Linked DNA regions of Homo sapiens: region 1 is linked to region 2. The links come from fine-mapping of genetic effects on gene expression. A gene starts in region 2. The other region holds a variant in brackets. All regions are shown on one strand. Distances are between the middles of the regions. Region 1 overlaps CACNA1B (calcium voltage-gated channel subunit alpha1 B). Region 2 holds the start of CACNA1B (calcium voltage-gated channel subunit alpha1 B).

The links.
Region 1: its variant is fine-mapped to the expression of CACNA1B in thyroid (GTEx, PIP 0.98).

What each region holds. Positions count from the first base shown.
Region 1 is chr9:138,018,793-138,029,715 of GRCh38, forward strand. CACNA1B (calcium voltage-gated channel subunit alpha1 B) reads left to right here. Exons shown (of 47, transcript NM_000718.4): 19 at 4,219-5,019; 20 at 6,163-6,380. Among named protein-coding and RNA genes, the nearest start is that of CACNA1B-AS1, 77 kb to the left of the region's middle. The variant G/C (reference allele first, on the strand shown) is at 4,147.
Region 2 is chr9:137,872,415-137,883,337 of GRCh38, forward strand. It overlaps CACNA1B (calcium voltage-gated channel subunit alpha1 B), which reads left to right and starts at 5,368. Exons shown (of 47, transcript NM_000718.4): 1 at 5,368-5,803; 2 at 6,640-6,745; 3 at 10,330-10,469. The coding sequence starts at 5,520. It overlaps CACNA1B-AS2 (CACNA1B antisense RNA 2), which reads right to left. Exons shown (of 4, transcript NR_121583.1): 2 at 10,423-10,588; 3 at 3,049-3,266. RefSeq lists enhancers at 1,127-2,326, 5,561-6,476, 8,745-9,246.

The DNA.
Region 1 (10,923 bases), 150 kb after region 2:
AGTTAGGCCACCTGCCCTGATGGAAGTGGCCAGGTGCAGTTAGGCCACCTGCCCTGATGGAAGTGGCCAGGTGCAGTTAGGCCACCTGCCCTGATGGAAGTGGCCAGGTGCAGTTAGGCCACCTGCCCTGATGGAAGTGGCCAGGTGCAGTTAGGCCACCTGCCCTGATGGAAGTGGCCAGGTGCAGTTAGGCCACCTGCCCTGATGGAAGTGGCCAGGTGCAGTTAGGCCACCTGCCCTGATGGAAGTGGCCAGGTGCAGTTAGGCCACCTGCCCTGATGGAAGTGGCCAGGTGCAGTTAGGCCACCTGCCCTGATGGAAGTGGCCAGGTGCAGTTAGGCCACCTGCCCTGATGGAAGTGGCCAGGTGCAGTTAGGCCACCTGCCCTGATGGAAGTGGCCAGGTGCAGTTAGGCCACCTGCCCTGATGGAAGTGGCCAGGTGCAGTTAGGCCACCTGCCCTGATGGAAGTGGCCAGGTGCAGTTAGGCCACCTGCCCTGATGGAAGTGGCCAGGTGCAGTTAGGCCACCTGCCCTGATGGAAGTGGCCAGGTGCAGTTAGGCCACCTGCCCTGATGGAAGTGGCCAGGTGCAGTTAGGCCACCTGCCCTGATGGAAGTGGCCAGGTGCAGTTAGGCCACCTGCCCTGATGGAAGTGGCCAGGTGCAGTTAGGCCACCTGCCCTGATGGAAGTGGCCAGGTGCAGTTAGGCCACCTGCCCTGATGGAAGTGGCCAGGTGCAGTTAGGCCACCTGCCCTGATGGAAGTGGCCAGGTGCAGTTAGGCCACCTGCCCTGATGGAAGTGGCCAGGTGTCCTGTCCCTGTCCTAGTGGTGGTGAGGCCCCTGCCGCCCCCGCCCTGCCCAGTGCTTCCTTGCTGGCAGCCAGCATGGAGCTGGGCTCAGTCTTTCCACGAGCACTGTTTGCTGCTGGCTGTCAGAGGCACTGATGTCTCCTGGGGCAAGAAAGCATGCTGGATCCTGCATCCATCCGCGGGGTGGAATAAGATGTAAGATGCAGATGGTGGCCGGGCGCGCTGGCTCACACCTGTAATCTAGCACTTTGGGAGGCTGAGGTGGGCGGATTCCCTGAGCTCAGGAGTTCGAGACCAGCCTGGGCAACATGGTGAAACCCTGTCTCTACTAAATACAAAAAATTAGCCGTGAGTGGTGGCGGGCGCCTGTAGTCCCAGCTACTCGGTAGGCTGAGGCAGGAGAATTGCTTGAACCCGGGAGGCAGAGGTTGCAGTGAGCCGTGATCACACCACTGCACTCCAGCCTGGGCGACACAGCGAGACTCTGTCTCCCAAAAAAAAAAAAAAAAAAAAATGCAGATGGCAGGTATCCATGGTGTCACACCAGGGCTGCTTCATATTGTCAGCAGTTCCGGGTTGTCTGAGCCCAGAGACCTCAAAGCAGGGCCACAGAGCGCCTTGAGGCCACTTCCAAGTCCTGTAGTTCCCCACAGCACCCAGCTGAGCATGGCTGAGCCCTCCTCCCTGGAACAGCTGGGTTGTGCCTACCAGCTGAGGCCAGGACACAGGGGTGCCAGTCGTCCATGTGACTTCCTTAAAGAACCCTTTTAAACCAGGACTTTGCCTGGATTAATCACCAGCCACACTTCACTCTAAGTTGGTGTGGATATGTGCCAGATAGAGCAAGGACAGAGACAGGGGCCAGGGGAGGTGCAGGCTGACTTAAGACACCATGCAGAGAGGCCCGGCACGCAGATTCAGAGACCTAGGGGATACCTCCAGAGAGGAACTTGGTGGTGCTGGCCGAGTGAGGGCAGATGCAGACAGTCTCTGGTGACGTTAGGGCTGACAGTGGCAGATAGGCCCGGAAGGAACAGGCCAGGTGGAACCAGTGGGGCTGCGGGGGGCGGGCAGGTGCCCTAGCGTAGGCTGCTCAGCATGTTGCTCTGCCTGGGTGGTCACGGGGGAGCCTGCCAGCCTGACAGCGCCCTCAGCCCAGCAGACAGCCTGGCCTTTCCCTGCTCCAGGTGTTTCCTGGGCGAGAAGGAGCCACACCTGAATGCAAGGGTGAGGGCAGAGCTATATGGTCTGGAGCCCACCCCACCTTCACACAGACCCTGTGCCTCTGCATGTTCCCCATGGTCCTCACTGCCTGTCTTTTTGGAACTGCAATGCTGGTCCCCAAGATTCACGGCTTCATCAGAGCGGGCCACCCTGCTGACCAAGTGGCTCAGAGCCCAGGCCCCTCTCGGGCACTGGAGTGGACTGGGAGGCTTGAGGCAGTGAACAGCCTCCGCCCTCACAGGGCTCCTGTGCCTGGTGCAAGCCCCTGGGGCTGCCTTCTGTTTTACACCACTCAGCACTGTTGGCAGTAGAGCCCTTTTGTCTTGGTCCCAGCTGGGGTTGGTGGGTCTTCTGTGGGTCAGTTGTAGGGCACCCCTGGGAGCAGGGGCAGCACAGTTTAAATGCATCAGGGATACAGGTCAGGGCCTGGGGCTTCAACTGAGGCTGGGGGTCTGCAGACGGCCCCTACAGGTAGCCCTGCCTGCCCCCACCCCACCCAAGCTCCCAGGTGAGACACAGACACCACACTTCCGCTTTCATTCGTGCAAAGTGCTGCCCCTGGACATTGCTCCCACTGCAGCCTGGACTTCTACAAAGGGGCAGGATTTATTGTTCACCTGCCTGGGGTGGGCCGGCTGCAGGGACTGGGCTTTCCCACATCTGGCTGCTCTGTCTTTGCAGGTCAGAGTGGTGCTCAGCGGCTCAGGGCCCCGGAGCTGGTGGCCGCCGGCCTGGGCCTCTGCAGGCCGTGGTTGTAGCCTGTGTTGTTAGTGCAGTTGGGGTCTGGCCAAGGACTCGTGTCTTCTTTAGAAATGTTTTTCCTTTTTGCCCTTGCCTGTGTCTGATCCTGACTCACTGTGGGACCCTGAGCAAGTAACATCCTCTCTCTAGGCTCAGTATCTTCATCTGTGAAATGGGGACAAGAGTAGCACCTGATTCTTGAGGTGGTTGTAAGGACTGGATGAAGTGGGCACTGCGCCCAGAGCACCACGTGGCAGTTGCAGGACACAGATGCCATGGCCCTCATTGTTGGTGTAGTCACTGCTGCCGCCAAGGCCATCCAGCAGCCTTGGAGGCTCCAGGGCGGGCCTCTGGCCTCAGATGAGGTTTCTCCCTGGCGATGGTGGGGCTTAGTTTTGGGATAATAAGACCTTATCCAAAGGTGGTCTTACTCAGCAGAAGGCCCAGAATGCAAAGGGCTTCCTGTGCACTCTGGGCTATGGAGCCCCATGTGTGATGTGTGAATAGAGGAGGTGCTTGGGCCCATGACATTGGAGTAGGGGTCAAGGCCTTCGGTAGCCCATGCAGTGAGGGCCGAGCCTGGACCACTGGCCATCCCTGGTGCTGGAGGGCTCCGAGGACCATGTTCTGGCTCTGCTCCCAGTAGAGGGAGGGGCTCTCCATGGAGTCAAGAGAGAGGAGGGCATTGGTGGCCACGGGAGGTGGCATTTCCAGCTTCAGACCTGACTTCTGGGCTCCTGGTCACTGAGCCAGGGGGCAGCTGCGGGGCTGCGGCTGACCACCTCGGGGACTGGCAGAGGCTCTGCGTTTGCTCCTGAAAGGGCCAGGTGCTCCCTTGGCTGCTGTCTGCTCTGCCACAGCAACTGCCCTCTGGGTTCCCTGGCAAACAGCCTTTTCACCTGGCTGGTGGCCTGCCTCCTGGAGGCAGCGATGGGGAAGTGCCTCTGGAGAAGGGGCCGCGTGTCCCGCCCTTCCTGTAGCAGCTGTGCTGGTGCTGCAGCAGGGGCCAGCTCCCAGGGAGGCTACAGGGCCTCCCTGGCTCCTGCCTCTCCATCCGTCCTGCCCTTTGTAACATGCCCTTCCCTCCCGCGGTGGCCTTCCTGGCCAGCCGCCCACCCACCTGCTTGGCCTGTCTGGTGCATTCCCACTGTCCTGTACCCCTCGGCCTCCTTGAGCCCCCCAGGGTCCTCCTGACAGGCTGGTGCTTTCACCTTGCGGGTCCTGTGGGACACCGTGGGGGGGGGGGGCGGCGGGGCTGAATTCGGTTCCCTTGGGCGTTCCCCACCTGATCCGCGTCCCCCGAGGGGTGTGGGGGCTCCCGCGGCCACGCCTCCCACCTCCCTGCGCCATTACTCCATTGCTGTGTGT[G/C]CATTGTGGCCTCCCTGGAGAGCGGCGGGCGGGCGGCAGACGGGGCCGCGCTCACCGCCAGTCTCCCCGCAGCAGGCAGCAGAACTCGGCCAAGGCGCGCTCGGTGTGGGAGCAGCGGGCCAGCCAGCTACGGCTGCAGAACCTGCGGGCCAGCTGCGAGGCGCTGTACAGCGAGATGGACCCCGAGGAGCGGCTGCGCTTCGCCACTACGCGCCACCTGCGGCCCGACATGAAGACGCACCTGGACCGGCCGCTGGTGGTGGAGCTGGGCCGCGACGGCGCGCGGGGGCCCGTGGGAGGCAAAGCCCGACCTGAGGCTGCGGAGGCCCCCGAGGGCGTCGACCCTCCGCGCAGGCACCACCGGCACCGCGACAAGGACAAGACCCCCGCGGCGGGGGACCAGGACCGAGCAGAGGCCCCGAAGGCGGAGAGCGGGGAGCCCGGTGCCCGGGAGGAGCGGCCGCGGCCGCACCGCAGCCACAGCAAGGAGGCCGCGGGGCCCCCGGAGGCGCGGAGCGAGCGCGGCCGAGGCCCAGGCCCCGAGGGCGGCCGGCGGCACCACCGGCGCGGCTCCCCGGAGGAGGCGGCCGAGCGGGAGCCCCGACGCCACCGCGCGCACCGGCACCAGGATCCGAGCAAGGAGTGCGCCGGCGCCAAGGGCGAGCGGCGCGCGCGGCACCGCGGCGGCCCCCGAGCGGGGCCCCGGGAGGCGGAGAGCGGGGAGGAGCCGGCGCGGCGGCACCGGGCCCGGCACAAGGCGCAGCCTGCTCACGAGGCTGTGGAGAAGGAGACCACGGAGAAGGAGGCCACGGAGAAGGAGGCTGAGATAGTGGAAGCCGACAAGGAAAAGGAGCTCCGGAACCACCAGCCCCGGTGAGTCCGCGGCTGGGCGGGGTCAGGGAGGGAAGGGTTGGCCGGGGCGGCGCGGGCCCCAGCGGTGGCTGCGGCCATGGGGTCCACGGCGGAGGCTGCAGCCCCGGCCACGCTGCCATGTCCAGAGCCGTCGGGGCTGGGGTCTCTGCATGCCGTTCACGTGGGGTGGTGACAATCCTGCCTTGCAGGGTTGACCTGTAAAAGGCTTGGCAGGGCGTGTATGCTCCGTAAAAGGCTTGGCAGAGTGTTTGTGCTCCGTGAATGCCAGCCGTTATTTAAGAAGGGAGGGCTTAAGGGGGAATTGTTGCGACTGGCTTGGAAAGAACAAAGTGGCCCTGGGAGAAGAGAAAGTTGGGGATTGCAGTGGAGGAAGGAGAGGCAGAAGGGCCCAAGGGAAGCCTGAGCAGGCCAGTGGGCTGGGCGCAGAGCGGGGTGTGGGGGCCAGGCTGTGTGACCATGACAGAAAGAACCCCAGCTAGCCCAGCTTGCTCCCTGGGGCAGGACTCACCAACCCCGTGAGGGCCTGGGGTAACAGTGGTCCAGTGGCCAAGACCAGCAGTCGCCAGGTACCCACTGGCCACAAACCAACCAGAATACTTGCCGCTGGAGGCCCCAGCCCAGGGTCAACCCAGCCGCCGCCCTGTCTTTGTGTGTGGGTGGGTCAGCCCCATCCCTGCCTTTCGGACTAAAGACACGGAGGTGTATAGAGTAATTTAAAAAACGTACAGAAGGCCAGAGTAGCAGAGCAGGTGGTTATGGATTTAGTTGGTCTGCATGGAGGCTTAAGGGTTTTGGTTGATAGGATTTTGCTGATGTGCATTATTATTATTATTATTGGAGACAGGACCGCACTGTCGCCCAGGGTGGAGTGCAGTGGCGCAATCATGGCTCACTGCAGCCTCAACTTCCCGGGCTGAAGCGATCCTCCCACCTCAGCCTTCCCAGCCTGAATAGCTGGGACTACATGCACGTGTCACCACGCCCAGCTAATTTTTTAATTTTTGTAGAGATGGGGTTTCGCCATATTCCCCAGGCTGGTCTTGAACTCCTGGGCTCAAGTGATCCTCCTGCCTCTGCCTCCCGGTGCCGGGATCACAGGTGTGAGCCACTGCGCCGAGGCCTGATGTACATTCTTGATTGCAGGGAGCCACACTGTGACCTGGAGACCAGTGGGACTGTGACTGTGGGTCCCATGCACACACTGCCCAGCACCTGTCTCCAGAAGGTGGAGGAACAGCCAGAGGATGCAGACAATCAGCGGAACGTCACTCGCATGGGCAGTCAGCCCCCAGACCCGAACACTATTGTACATATCCCAGTGATGCTGACGGGCCCTCTTGGGGAAGCCACGGTCGTTCCCAGTGAGTATCTCCCTGTGCCAGTGGGGCAGGGCCCATCTTGTGCAGGTCCAGCAACCCCCATTCCCTCCTGCTCCACAGCAGCCACTGGGGACCCAGCCTACCTCTGTGAATTGTTCTCCTGGCTGGAGAGAGAGTCCTTTGCTGTCAACATCTGTCCCTTGATGTCCTGTTGATTTCTAGTGCCCCAGAGATAACTGAGGTTGAGCTCCATTCTCCTTCCTTCCCAAAATATTTGCACGTTGCCAACTAAGTGCCAGGTGCTGTGTTAGAGTGCTGAGAGCATAGTAGGAGGGAGACAGTCTTGTCAGGAAGACAGACCACAAAACAGGCACAACTCTTGATGGTTGCACAAAAGCTGCTGGCTGAGGACTCTGTCCACGGCCTTGACTGGGGCTGAGAGCGAGGGGCTGCAGAGGAGGAGGCTCTCCACTGCGTCTGCCCATTTGTTCATGGGCCTGTGCCATCCCTGCTCTGAGGCTGTGCTCCCAGGCCTTTATTTGAGCTGCCTTCTTTCCTCCCCTTGCTCACTCACATGCTCGGAACAGCCTTTCCATGCCTGCCTGTGTGCAGTCCCTGAGGGCACAGGGGACCAAGATGTCATTCCTGTCTTGAAACCTGTCTAATAGGGAGAGATCTGCTGGTTACAAATACAGGCCCCTTACGTGGTGGGGAAGGTGCATGGGCGTTTCATGGGCATCAAGGAGGAGCCCTCCTTTCTTAAGTACAGAGAAAAAAGGGGTAGAAGAGAGGCCATAGAAACAGGACTCACATGAATGCCAGCAGAAGCATTTAGGTCTTAAGCAGACCAGACGGACTCAATCAGGTGCCACCACATGCATGCCCATGTTTGCAGACGGATCTCCACACACAGATGTGTGCATGTCCGTGTTTGCAGATGCATCCGCACACACAGACGTGTGCGTGCCCATGTTTGCAGACAGATCTCCAGACACACACATGTGCATGACATTCTCTCTTGCTCAGGTGCTCTCACCTGGGGCCTGTGGACTGGCGCACAATTCCAGGTATAACCATGGAAGACACAGCCTCTAACTGCTCAGCCTCCCCTTTTCCTTTGCTTCCTTGGAGGAAAGTTGCCCTTGGTTCATTTTCTTGTTCACTTCCCATGGGCACAAGTGAGTCTGCCTGCCCAGCTCCCTCACCTGATTCTCTGTGGATCAGCTTGAGGATGAGCCTAGGTTCCCTACCTGGCTTTTATCTGCAGGAATCCAGATGTGACTCCTCCCCAGGCTCCCTATGCTCTTCCCCACACCCCTGTTGGCAACCACTGATTTTTTCACTGTCCCTATAGTTTTGCCTTTTCTAGACTGTCATAGGGTTGGAATCATACAGTATGCAGCCTTTTCAGATTGGCTTCTTTCCATTAGCAATATGCACTTAAGTTTCCTTTGTGTCTTTTTGTGGCTTGACAGCTCATTTGTTTTAAGCGTTGGATTAATAGTCTGTCTTTTGGGCATACCACAGTTTATTTATTCACCTATTGAAGGACATCTTGTTGCTTCCAATTTTTGGCAATTATGAATAAAACTGCTTTAAACATTCATGTTCAGGTTTTTGTGTGGACATAAGTTTTCAACTCATTTGGGTAAATACTTAATAGCATGCTTATTGGATTATATGGTAAGACTGTTTATCTTTATAAGAAACTGACAAACTATCTTCCAAAGGGACTGTACCATTTTGCATTCCCACCAGCAATGAATGAGAGTTCCTGTTGCTCCACATCCTTGCCAATATTCAGTGTTGTCAGTGTTTTGGATTTGAGTTATTCTAATTAAGCGTGTAATGATATCTTGTTTATTTTGCAATTTCCTAATGACATATGACGTTGAGCATCTTTTAATGTGCTTATTTGCCATGTGTATAATTTTCTTTGATGAGATTCCTATTCAAATCTTTTACCCACTTTTTATTCTGGCTGTTTGTTTTCTAGTTGTTGAGTTTTAGGAGTTCTTTGTATATTTTGGATACAAGTCTTTCATCAGATATGTGTTTTTGCAAGCATTTTCTCCCATTTTGTGGCTTGGTTTTTCATTCTCTTAATGTCTGGTGTTTTCGATTGCTAAAAACAACTGATTGTCTGGTCCCTATTATTACTTCTACTAGAAACAGAAATCTAGGCTATTAGTTTTTATATGTTGATTATGTATCCTGCTACTTTTCTGAATCCTCAAATTGTTTATTAGTTTCACTGATTCCCCCTTTTTTTCCGAGATATATTATCAAAACTTCTGCAAATATACTTCTAACTCTTTCTAAGTCTTACACCACTCATTATTATTTTTTTGTCTGATTTCACTATCAGATAACAATGGAATTACTGGGCATTACCTTGTTTCCGCCTACATTAAATAAAATTTTGGTTTGGGGCCTGAGGGATGTGTGTGTGTGTCTGTTTGTGTGTGTGTAAAATTATGTTGTGGTATCCATTAGTTCCTACTTCAGTAAGTGTTTTTATCTGGAATAGATGTTGAATTTTCTTGAAGACCTTTTCAGCATCCATAGAGATCATATATTTTTTTCTCCTTAGATATGGGGATTTATAGTAATGAATTTTTTGATATGAAATATCTTTGCAATCTTAGAATAAATCCAAGTGGTTATTATATTTATTTTGTAATATGCCATTGGATTCTCTTTAACATTTTTTGTAGGATTTTTGGATTGATATTTTTAAGCGAGATGTGTTCTGTAGCTTTCTTTTGTCACATTTGAGGATCATAAGGTTTAAATATCAATGACATAGAGTTATCTATTGCTTAACTTCACAGCTCCATTCCTGAAAATCAAATGTTCTAAAAGAGGGTCTCATTTCCACTCCCCCCCAACCTTTTTTTTTTTTTTTTTTTTTTTTTTTTGAGACTGAGCCTTGCTCTGTCACCCTGGCTGGAGTGCAGTGGCACGGTCTCGGCTCTGCCTCCCAGGTTCAAGCAATTCTCCTTCCTCAGCCTCTCGAGTAGCTGGGATTACAGGCGCCCACCACCACACCTGGCTAATTTTTGTATTTTTAGTAGAGATAGGGTTTCGCCGTGTTGGCCAGGCTGATCTTAAACTCCTGACCTCAAGTGATCCACCTGTCTTGGCCTCCCGAAGTGCTGGGATTACAGGCGTGAGCCACCGTGCCTGGCCCCATTATTTTAAATGGTAAAACATTATAATGTGTTATGTGTCCGCTAAAAATTCCTAACCGATTTTGTAAAATATAAAGCACAGATAAACAATGAAAACTAATAAACAGTCATAATAGAACATAAAATGCTTCACATATTGTTTCCTGATTACCAGTTAAAATAGCTAGTAATAAGCAATTGCTTTAGATACCTCCTTTATTGAAACTTGTACTTTTCAAAAACATCCATACGATTCCCATAACTTACTGTGAACAAAAGTTCTCTGAAAAGGAGTTTGGAGGAAACAGGCTTTATTCTAGTGAATAGTTTGCAAACCAGGAAGATGCAGCCTTCCTTGTAAAATGAAGGCGCATTCCAGAGGAGAAAGAGAAGTTTTGACATTTCCTGCCCAGGTGCTTAATCAAGTCCCTTTATGCAAATGAAGGATTCAGACTTGCTTGGTCTGATTGGTTGACACAGCTGAGTTCTGATTGGTCCATATAGCTGAGCTCTGATTGGCTGAGGCAAGTGAACTCTGATTGGTTGGTTCAGGTGAGCTCTAAAAGTTCCCAGAGTTAAAAAGGTGTGGGTTTTCTGGGACCTCTATTCAGCATATGGCTGCTTCTCTCTGACTTAAATGTAGGCTCAGTTAGCCACTTGGGATCCATCTTGAAGGATTAGCTCTTTCAGGTTTCTTCACACAACCAACTGAATTTGGAATCCTGCCTGAGAGTTGTTCCCCACATTATTTTGTTAAAAACATTATATTGACTTTTGGGCATGTATACTTTTTTTTAACATAAATGTCAGCCAGAAAAGTCAACAACACTGTAATGAAAGATATATATGTTTTCCAGAAGCATGGGCATTATAAAACTTGGCAGTGCTCTATTGGGAAATACTATCCAAGGATATATTCTGTAGGATATTCCCGTTATTGGTTCATAAAAATAATTAGAATGTCTTCTTGTGCTCAAGGGTAGCTCATGTAGTATAGGAATTATGTGGTCTTTAAATATTTGATAGAATTATCTTGTGAAATTGTTGATGTCTGGTCTCTTTTTGTAGGACAGTTCCTTTGTAATACCCCTTTTTTTGTATGGATGTTGGTCTGCTTAAACATTGTTGCCTCTTGAGATGAGTTTGGTAAATTATATTTTCCTTAGAAATTATCCATTTGATCTAGGTTTTCCCACTTACTTACATAGCCTTAAGAGTGGCTTAAAGTTTTAAAAATTTCCCTCTGTTTCAGTGTTTTTCCTCCTTGTCATTTCTGATCCTGTGTTTTTTTGTGTTTTTCTTTTCCTTTTTTTTTTTTTTTTTTCCAGACAGGGTCTCGCTCTGTCGCCCAGGCTGGAGTGCAGTGGTGCCATCTCGGCTCACTGCAACCACCATCTCCCGGGTTCAAAGTG
Region 2 (10,923 bases):
TGCCAAGCGAGCTAGGGTCTGTGTGGTGCTGCGGGACGGTCATCGCTGCACTTCGGGCCCTAAGTTAGCAGCATCCAGTGAGGTCGAGAGGCACGTCCCATGGCCCAGCAATTTCTCTCCTCGGGTTAGACCTGCAGGCTCTTGTCCAAGCACCAGGAGAATGACATTAAATGTTCATTGGAGAATTGAAATGGCAGGAATTGGACAGCAGCACAAATCTCCGTCAAAGTAGAATGGATCAATAAATTGTCACACGACAGACTAACATATGTGGTGAAAACAAGTGATTCACAGCTACACCCAACAACACAGTGCGCTGCAGCACCACAGGACGACAGCTTAGCTCTCTTGTGTGAATTTCAAAAGCATGGGACTGGGCGAGGTGGCTCACACCTGTAATCCCCGCACTTTGGGAAGCCCAGGTGGGCGGATTGCCTAAGCTCAGGAGTTCGAGACCAGCCTGGACAACATGGTAAAACCCTGTCTTCTATGAAAATACAAAAAATTAGCCAGTTGTGGTGGCGCACTCCTATAGTCCCAGCTACTCAGAGACTGAGGCACAAGAATTGCTTACACCCAGGAGGTAGAGGTTGTAGCAAGCTGAGATGGCACCACTGCACTCCAGCATGGGCAACAGATCGAGACTTTTTATTTTTTTTAAAAAGAAATGAATTTCAAAAGCATGTACAACTGCACAATAAATTGCACGTAGATGTACAGAGAGAAAGGGAACGGTGAACACAAAATTCTGGACAGTGATGACCTCTGAGATGCGGAAGTCCGGGAGGGGCTGCACCGTGCTTGGATGCTGGGATCCTCTGTGTCTTCCACAGAGCCCTAGTGCCTGTTATTATTTGTAGAATTAAATGTTAATTATATAAAAAGAAAAAAACCCTCCTAGTTCTCCTCCCCGCTTCCCCATAAGGGGACCCAGCACACAGTGACAGAGTTGAGATCTACAGGGGACATCGCAGGAACAACTGAAGAGGTGCTGGGCTTGCAGGTGCTGTGCTGGGAGGGTGGGGTGCAGGAGCCTAGTGTGGAGGGCGGCCGGGGTGTGGCTACAACCACCACCTCCCACCGCAAGGGCTGTGACCAACTTTGGGACCCCTGGAGGAGTTTCTGGGGAACCAGAGTGACACCAGTCTGTCCAATTTGTGACCTTCCCCAGTGGCGGGAGCCTGGGTGGGTGTCTCTGGAGGTTCCAGATGGGAATTCTGCCAGGTGAGAAAGAGGGTGAGGGAGTGAGGGATGGGGGTGGGGGACAGGGGGCAGCAGAAGGACTCTGAGGTTGGAGAGGGATGGGGGAGGGGCTGTGAGCAAGTGTGCTGGAGGGTCCGGAGGAAGATGGGACCCTCGAGGGGTGACAAGCTCGCTGGTCGTTGGCTTAGACACTGCAGCAGTGCCCACCACGCAGCCTGTCCTGGACTTAGTCACCCCCAGCTCCAGACTTGTCAACTCTACACATTTCTCTTGTGGATTCTCTTCCCTATAGCCCTGGATGAGCATTTCAAACCCTCTCCTCCCTCGCCAACCTGCAAATGCCCCCTTCTCACTCTCAGTTGCTTGTTTTGTTTCTTGTTTCACTGAGAAAGTAGAATAATCACAATAAAACCCTCATCCTCCCCCAAATGAATCCTCCAGCCCACCTGTGCCTGCAATCGTGCGACCCGCTTTTCTTTCCCTGCCTCGAGTGAGCTGTCCCAAGTCTGATGCCCTCTTGCCTGGACGAGGCAAGACACTCTTTTTCTTGCATCAGCAATTTTTCTTTCTGTTGAGTCATTGCCATCACATACGAAGTCCAATAATATCCCCTACCTTAAAAAACAAACAAACAAAAAACTCCTTAATGCTGCATCTGTGTTGTTCCCTGTCTCACTGGACAAGCTGTCTACACCTGCTGTAGGGACTTCCTCACCGAACGAGCTGTCTACACCTGCTGTAGGGATTTCCTCACCAACCGAGCTGTCTACACCTCCTGTAGGGACTTCCTCACCGACCGAGCTGTCTACACCTGCTGTAGGGACTTCCTCACCGACCGAGCTGTCTACACCTGCTGTAGGGACTTCCTCACCGACCGAGCTGTCTACACCTGCTGTAGGGACTTCCTCACCGACCGAGCTGTCTACACCTGCTGTAGGGACTTCCTCACCGACCGAGCTGTCTACACCTGCTGTAGGGACTTCCTCACCGACCGAGCTGTCTACACCTGCTGTAGGGACTTCCTCACCGACCGAGCTGTCTACACCTGCTGTAGGGACTTCCTCACCGACCGAGCTGTCTACACCTGCTGTAGGCACTTCCTCACCGACCGAGCTGTCTACACCTGCTGTAGGCACTTCCTCACTGGACGAGCTGTCTACACCTGCTGTAGGCACTTCCTCACTGGACGAGCTGTCTACACCTGCTGTAGGCACTTCCTCACTGAACGAGCTGTCTACACCTGCTGTAGGGACTTCCTCACCGACCGAGCTGTCTACACCTGCTGTAGGGACTTCCTCACCGACCAAGCTGTCTACACCTGCTGTAGGGACTTCCTAACTGAACAAGCTGTCTACACCCGCAGTAGGCACTGCCTCACTGACCGAGCTGTCTACACCCGCTATAGGGACTTCCTAACTGAACAAGCTGTCTACACCCACAGTAGGCACTGCCTCACTGACCGAGCTGTCTACACCCGCTATAGACACTTCCTCACTGACCGAGCTGTCTATACCTGCTGTAGGGACTTCCTCACTGAACGAGCTGTCTACACCTGCTGTAGGCACTTCCTCACTGAATGAGCTGTCTATACCTGCTGTAGGGACTTCCTCACTGAACGAGCTGTCTACACCCGCTGTAGGGACTTCCTCACAACTCATTCTCTTCAATCCGCCCCACTCGGGCTGCTCCTCTGTGGAAACTGCTGTCCGGGTGATGGGCACCTCTGTCTTTCCACTCTGATGGCTGAATGTCGGTCCTCATCTCTATGGACTACACGCACTCCTCCCTCAGCTCCGGGACAGGGCACTCCCCCGACCCCCCACAGCCCTGGCTGCTCCTCCTCACCGGCTTCATTCTTGGGGAGTGGCAGCATCCTCTGTCTCTGACTTCGGTCGCTTCCTCGGTGGTGATGCATCAGGCAGGATGACACTTGCAAGGGACCATCTACCACAATCTGTGCGATCTGTGCAAGGCGCAGGGAAGTCCCAAGGGCCAGGATTCACCATGCCTGCGTGATGCCATCCCCCGCTGGCAGGAACAAGGGGAGGACGCAGGAACTGGAACTGGAGAGAGAGAAAGGAGAGTGGTGGGTGCCTGACAGGGCCGGAGCTTCAATTGAGGTGCACAGCCAACCCTCGGTGACCTGGCAGGAGGAAGTCAGGGGAATAGTAGACACCTTGGCCTTGCTCTTTCCTTCCCTCAAGGGCCTTTGGTGCTCCTGTTGGGCTAGCATAACCAGAAACCACAGGTCAAGGAACAGGCTGATGTGGCTTTCAAAGGCCAGCTCCAGCGTCACGCAGCACGGAGGGAAGGGCAGAGCAGATGTGGCGAGCCCAGCCTCCAGGCGCAGGGCTGCAGCAGTGGCCTCTCGTCTTGGCATCCCTCGAGAAACTCCACCCCTGCATAGCATCTCCACTTCTGTCCCCAGTAGGCAATTCTTAATTTCCACCCTGTGACTAACAAGCTCTTCCCTCTGTCTTCCCCATCTCGGCAAAGGGCATCCCCCTCGACTCAGTCACTCAGACCAAAAATGAAGAGCCTGTGTTTCTATCTCTCCTTCACATTTACACTGGACGCACTCTCTCTAAGAGAAAGAGGCACTGCTCATGGCCCCCATGTTCAAACCACATCATCTCTCTCTGTGCTGCTGTCAAAACCCCTCCCTGGGCTCTGATTTTTCTCTGTGACAGGCCAGTTGGCAGCCTCCCCGACAGCCTTAGCACCTGCTTCCCAGCTAAGCGAACCCTGATTTTGTTTGGGGCAACTATGTGCTCGCCTAGTGGGGGCTGGCCATCCTGGTCCACTTTGACACATGTTCACTTTCCCACCCTGTTAAAGTCAGGGCCGGCCACATGGCCCATGGCCTAACGGGGTTAAAGAGACACTTGCAGGGGGAGCCTCTGAGAAGCTTTTCCTTTGTTAGAAAAGAAAATCGTAACCTGATTCACAAAGTGGTCATCCTTTGTACACCTGCCACTTCCTTCCCGTTTGAGATGCTGGTGTAGCGGTGTGATGCCCTGTGCTATGACAGCCACCCTGGGGCATGAGGCAACAGGCAGGAAGGCAGAAAGTGTATGTGGGGATTTTGGAGGGAGGAGAGATGGTGGCTTCGTATTCAGTGAGATCACAATGGCATCGTGCAAGCTGCTGCTAGCTGGGAAGCGGGTTGTTCGCCTCTGAATGCATCCTAAGTGATTCAGCACCCCAGCCTCCTGCAGTCCACACTCCACACGGCAGCCCGAGGGACCCTTCAGAGGCCTACGCGCCTCTGCTCGGAACTGTGCGGACTGCCTCCCTCTCAGAAGGCGCAGCCCGCACCCGGCCTCACTCTGCACTCAGCGCCTTGCGAGCGAGCTTCAGGTCCGAGAGGGTCCCTTGTTCCCGAAGGTCTCCCCGACCCCGGGGCCGCCTTTTTGGAGGTTGTGAGGACCCACGGGCCTGCACGAAGTGAGCGCTGTGTAAATGGTTGCTGTGCTTTGTACAAAACGGTCAGCTCCGTGAGGGCAGAGCTGGGAGCCCAGGACAGGCCCGGCCCGCGGTGGGCGCTCAAGGAGGCCTGGGGAATGGCAGTGACCGTGACAGGTTCCCTAACGGGGCGTGGCCTGCAAGGCGGTCAGAGGCTTCTCTGAGCTGAGATCCCGGAGCCAGCCCCGTGCGTGGAAACAGCAGGTCCCGCACCCGGGCTGGGGGCCCCCGACAGAAGCGTCCGCGTGGCACCAAGGCCGCGAGCCGAGCGCACCCGGAGGGTTGGGAAGGCCGGGGACCCGGCGGGGACGGGGCGGGCCGGCCCAGGCCTGGCGCCCAGCTCTGGGCTGCAGCCCCAGGGCTGGTGGCGCCTCCGGGCGGAGCGAGGGGTCCGTCTGGGCCGAGTTTGAGGAGCCGAGGGCACCCAGGGGCGGTGCGGCCGGCAGAGTGGGCTCCGGGGACGGCCCGGGCTGGCGCTGAGCGGCCGTCGAGGACCCACAGGCTCGTCCGCTCCTGGGCCCGGCCCAGCCCCGGGGTGGGAGGCGCGGGGCGAGGGAGGCGCAGCCGGAGGGGCCGGGGCGGGGCGGGGGCGGCCGCGGGGCGGGGCCGGCGCGGCAGGGTGGGCGGGGCCGGCGCGGATTGGCCGGGCCCCGCCACGTGACCGGCCCCTTATAGGGCGTGGCGCGGGGCCGCGGAGTCGGGTGAGGCGGCGGCGGCTGCGGCGGTGGGGCCGGGCGAGGTCCGCTGCGGTCCCGGCGGCTCCGTGGCTGCTCCGCTCTGAGCGCCTGGCGCGCCCCGCGCCCTCCCTGCCGGGGCCGCTGGGCCGGGGATGCACGCGGGGCCCGGGAGCCATGGTCCGCTTCGGGGACGAGCTGGGCGGCCGCTATGGGGGCCCCGGCGGCGGAGAGCGGGCCCGGGGCGGCGGGGCCGGCGGGGCGGGGGGCCCGGGTCCCGGGGGGCTGCAGCCCGGCCAGCGGGTCCTCTACAAGCAATCGATCGCGCAGCGCGCGCGGACCATGGCGCTGTACAACCCCATCCCGGTCAAGCAGAACTGCTTCACCGTCAACCGCTCGCTCTTCGTCTTCAGCGAGGACAACGTCGTCCGCAAATACGCGAAGCGCATCACCGAGTGGCCATATCCTGCCGGGCGGGGCCGGGCGGGGCCGGGCGGGGACCGGGGTGGGGGCCGGGGCCGGGGCCATCTTCCCGGTGGCCGGGAGGGCGCGACCTGGGGAGGCGTCGGGAGACGGGCGAGGGGGGTACGGAGCGCCCCAGGGCCCCTCGGAGCGGCGGGTGCGGGAGCATTTCCGTGAGTGCGGCGGGCGCGGGGCGGAGCCCCTCTGCTCCGGACTCGTCCCTCCGCACGCCGGGTCCTGGGGATCCTGGTCGGTGCACAGTGCGCGGCTAGCCTGGAGGGCACCGAGGGCGAAGCCGCGTCCGTGCAGGTGCGAGCGCTGTGGGGACGCGGCCGTGCGCGCGCCTGGCTGCAGGTGCCTGCGTGTGCGGGCTGAGCTGGAGCCTGGCGCTGCGCGTGCGTGCGCTCGCGATGCGGGCTACATGCATGTTCACGTGCCTGTGTAGGTACATGTGGCTGCGTGTCTGGAGGGAGCAGCGTGCGCCTGCGCGGGGTCTCCCTCCAGCCTCGCCTGGGGGCGCTCGGCCCCCTCCCCTCGGGGCCCTGGAGTCGGGCGGAGCCGGGCCGGAGGCGCTGTCCGCGGTGCTGACGGCCGCCCGGGTGTGCCGAGGGGCTGGCGGCCCAGACTGCGGAGGCCCCGCCTCGCGGCCGCCCCTAGGGATGGGGGCAGGGAGTGAGGGAGACCAGGCCGCTTCCGCCAGGAGAGGGGCTCCGGACCCAGTTGTCTCAGCCCCTCCGGAGACGGCCTAGCGGTGGCTGCTGCACTGGGCTCTGCTGGCGTCGGCCTCGTGTTTCCCTCCGTGCGGCGTCTGCCGGCCAGTCCTTAACTCACGCACTCCATTCGAGTATATGATCCTGGCCACCATCATCGCCAACTGCATCGTGCTGGCCCTGGAGCAGCACCTCCCTGATGGGGACAAAACGCCCATGTCCGAGCGGCTGGTGAGTGCCCGGCTGGGCCTGAGGGCAGGGTGGTGGGGAGGCCGCGACTCCACTTTCCTTTATGGTCTGTGCCTGAGAACAGCTTCCTCGGGCAGGGTCGTCTGGGCAGTGCCCCTCGCGTCTGAAGGAAAAGGTAGGCCTGGCAGATAACACCTTCCTCGAGGGCCAGGGCAGCTGGGGTCACCGGCTTAGCCCTGGGCGTGGCCACGTTAGCCCTGGGCCAGTCTGCCCTGTGCCACGAGCTACTCCTGCACCTCAATGGCTGTCCTGGCTTTCGGCGCTAGACTTTGATCCAGAAAACCATGTTCTAAACTTGGGGTGGGGAAGGGGCATTCATGTCTTCGGGAAGGTCAGCTCTGAATGCCATGTGTGCCCTGCTGGGCTGAGATGGGCTTTGGCCTGGATGTGGGAACCCTGAGCCTCATCCTCCAAGTTGTCTTGTGCGGGCCTGCTTGGAACCTCTTCTCCAGTGGGCCTCACCATCCTGTGGGAAGCATTCCTTCTCAAACATTCTGAATCATTTTTACCTGTCCCCAGATTCCAGCCAAGAGGCCCCCGTGGTAGCCCCCATTGGAGCATAGAGTCTGTGTGAGTCAGGGTGCCAGGGCAAGGTCTCCGTGGCTCAACAGGAGGCAAGGTGGAAGGCCAGCCCTGTGGGGTCTCTGGAGGGGCTGGGTCAGAGGAAGGGCAGCATTTTGGAGGTGAGCAGTTTCTGAGGTCAGAGCATGTCCCCCAGCCCCCACTCTTCCCTGATGCCTGGCCCCATGTCTGGGTTCCGAGTGTGCCTAAAGACTGGAGCCTCCAGGTGAGCAGAAGGCAGAGCAAGTGGGGGCCCAGGGGGTGCGGGGCCAGAGGCGTCCAGGAGACGGCCTCTCTGGGGTGTCAGGAGCTGCTCCCTCTTCCCTTAAGCCTGGCTTCCGCCCCCACTAGCATCCTGAGACAAGAGCTATTCAGACTTTAGCCCTGAAACTGAACTCCCTTTGAACCTGGGCCACCGCAGGCCCAGGAGTGCAGAAGGGGAGACAGGGAGCCTGTCCTGGAGGTGAGGCACCAGGAGGTGAGTTATGGGTGGCCGAGGTGAGGAGGTCTTAATGGAGCACAGTCTGGAATGCCCAGTGGTCTGGGTTACGGCCGGGTGAGGAGGAGGAGCATGGACAGCCCAGCCACACCATGAGGCAGGCGTGAGTCATGGTCCCTGTGGGGGACTTGGGCAGGACCCTGGTGGGGCCCATTGCTTTCTGGAGGCTGGAGAAGAGGGTGAGCTTGAGAGGAAACAGGCAGAGAGCCTTGAATGCCAAGTCACAGGAAGGAGGGCAGGGCCAGGGTCAGAGGGACGCAGGCCCAGGAGCCAGGCCGGGGCGGGGGCAGGGAGGATCAAGCTGTCTTGCCCTGCCAGGCAGTGGGTGTCCAGCCTTGCAAGTTCCTGCCTCGCAGGTGTGGGAGGGTTTACTTTGTGGTCATAGGTTGGGGAGGACACTTCTAGGAGTGGCGAGCTAACCTGTTGGGAAAACTGCAGAACATGCCCGCCCTGAGCCAGCCTAGAGGTCTGGGGAGCTCTTGACCAGTCCCAGTCCCATGTGCAGGCCCAGCCATTGATGTCCCCTGGGATGGAGGGGAGGCTGTGCTGCTGCCCACAGAGCAGGCCGAGGCTGGGTGGTGCAGGGGCAGCCCCTCAGTTGTCTCCCAGCCTGGCCCTGGGCGAGGCCTCCCTGGTTCCCTGCCTCTCGGGGCTGTTTCCCACCTCCCCGTCGACTCTGGAGCTACCTCGAGCCAGGCCCCAGCTTGCAGTGCAACACCAAGCTGCCTGCACACCCATCCCTCCCACCTAAGCCAGCCTTCAGCCATGGGCTGGGCAGGGCAGAGCTGTGAGGAGAGGGCTCGGGCTGGGGGCTCCTTCCCAGCTGAGGGTGCTGGCTGGTCCTTCCTAGGCGTCGGGCCTGTTCTCTTTTTCACCAGGAAGTTTCCTGTGAAGATCTCTGTCTGCTGCGGCCCCACTGTTCCCCTGGGGCAGATGGTCAGCAACCCCACCCCTTGGGAAAAGGGGTCCCTCCTAAACAAATCAGACCAGAAGGCTCGAGGCCAGGAAGAGCATGGGCGAGTCAGCACGGGTCATGATGGACCCTTGGGTGCTGGTAGCTTCTACCAGGTACTGCCAGCCAAGCCTTGGGCCAGCTCCACCACAGGACAGGAGGAGCCCAGGCTGAGTAAGGTGGGAGTCAGATGCGGAGAGCCCTCGAGAGCCTGGCTTCCTGGGGAGGAAGGCACAGGCTGTGGAACTGGTGGCACTCACCTCACCTGGCAGCTCTGTGGCAGCCCAGCAGCTGCTTCTTCCTGTGACTTCCACAGTCCTGAAGACGAACCCTCAGGGGAGGCCCTTGAAGCTGGTCTCCTCTCCCCACCCCTTCACCTGCTTCCTAAGGCAGCAGCCCTGGAGTGCAGGTGTCCGACACCCCCATGCCAACCCTGCACATGCAGCTCCCTCAGCCCAGCTTCCCGGGCTTGCCTTGCACAGGGCCTTTCCCTGCCAGCCCCACGCGTGTGCTCACGAGGAGTCTTTGGGGTCTCCCTAAGCTCCACACAGCCCCATCTCCACCCTGTTTGCTGCTTCCAGCTCGGCACTGGTAGGGCCTGGCTCTGCTCTCTCATGTCCAGTAACTGTTGGCTGGAGCTCAGCCTGGGGTGCAGGAAAGGGATCTTTTTAGGATCAGCTGTCTTCATTCCTTTGGCTGCTCTGTTCCCTCCACCTGGATCCCTTTCTCAAAATCGAGCTGTGGAAGCCTTGCCTGCAGGCGCCACGCCCTCTGGGAGGCTCCCTGCGGTCTGAGCCCAGGGTGGCTCCCAGCTTCAGGCTCAGACTGTGGCTGGCTGCCTCCAGGGTCCTCACAGATGTGGCGGTCGTCGCTCAGCACACTCAGGGCTGAGGTTGTGCTTCTCATTTCTGTTGTTTTCTGCCGAGATGTGCATGTTCTGGTTACCCGGGTGCATGTTGAATGCATAAACGGGGCCTGGACTGAGTTCAAGAAAGCCTGAGCTGTATCCAGGCAACCTTGTGCAGGTTCCCACCCAGAGGCTGCTGTGGCCTCTGCCTGGCTCCTGGGCATCTCTGTGCCTCTGTCTCCCACATGTTAGAATGGGGATGACCTCATGGGGTATTAAAGGGCCACCCTAGTTGATAAAGGAAAAACTACCTGATAAGCACCCACAACTAGTACTGTTACATCACTGTCTTCCCCGAAGCAAGGCCCACTGCATGGTGCTAGCAGGGAGATTGGGGCCCCACTGTGACGTGGGCAGAAGCTGAGATGCCAGGGTGGGAGGCACGAGGGGCCTGCAGGCATGACTGGGATGTTGCTGCTGTAAACAGTGGTGTCCCCATTAGGGGACATGTGCAGACAGCAAGCAGGCTCAGTGATGGGAATGGCTCCTTGGAGAATCTGCAGGGTGTTGGGGGCAAGGTGAGGAGGGTCAGACCCTCACGATAGCTGTGGCCTGCACATGGTGGGGTGGGGTCCTCACCAACCGTCTCTGCCCGCTACTACACCGGGTAGGGGCCAGGGGTGACCACTGTTCTGCGCTTCTCCTAGGACGACACGGAGCCCTATTTCATCGGGATCTTTTGCTTCGAGGCAGGGATCAAAATCATCGCTCTGGGCTTTGTCTTCCACAAGGGCTCTTACCTGCGGAACGGCTGGAACGTCATGGACTTCGTGGTCGTCCTCACAGGGTAGGCAAGCTGAGGCCAGGAGGCCCAGCGTGTGAGGCCCGGGCGTGTGCTCTCTGAAGCTCAGTTGCGCCGTGGAGCTGGGGCAGCTGCAGTCCCCTCACTGGGGTCCCCTCACAGCCCTGCTGGAGATGAACGAATGTGAGACAGTCTGTTTGCCACCCTGTGTGCTATGGGGGTGCTTCTCCCAGGGGTGCCAGTGCTGTATTTCTCGCTGACGGATCACAGTGACCTGTCCCCAGGAGGCGCTGGCTTGCAGAGCGCACAGGCCAGGGGCCACCAGCTTCCATGGCTGGCCTGAGCCAGCATGGTGCCTGTTGGAGGTGGCTTTGCTGCCCAGGTGAGGGGCTTCCTAGCGAGGAGGAGGGCTGGACTTCTGGCCTCACCCAAGCCTGTGGTCTGGGAGGGGCACTTGGCGGTTTGAATTCTGTGCCTGCCTGAGACGCTCACCTGTGGT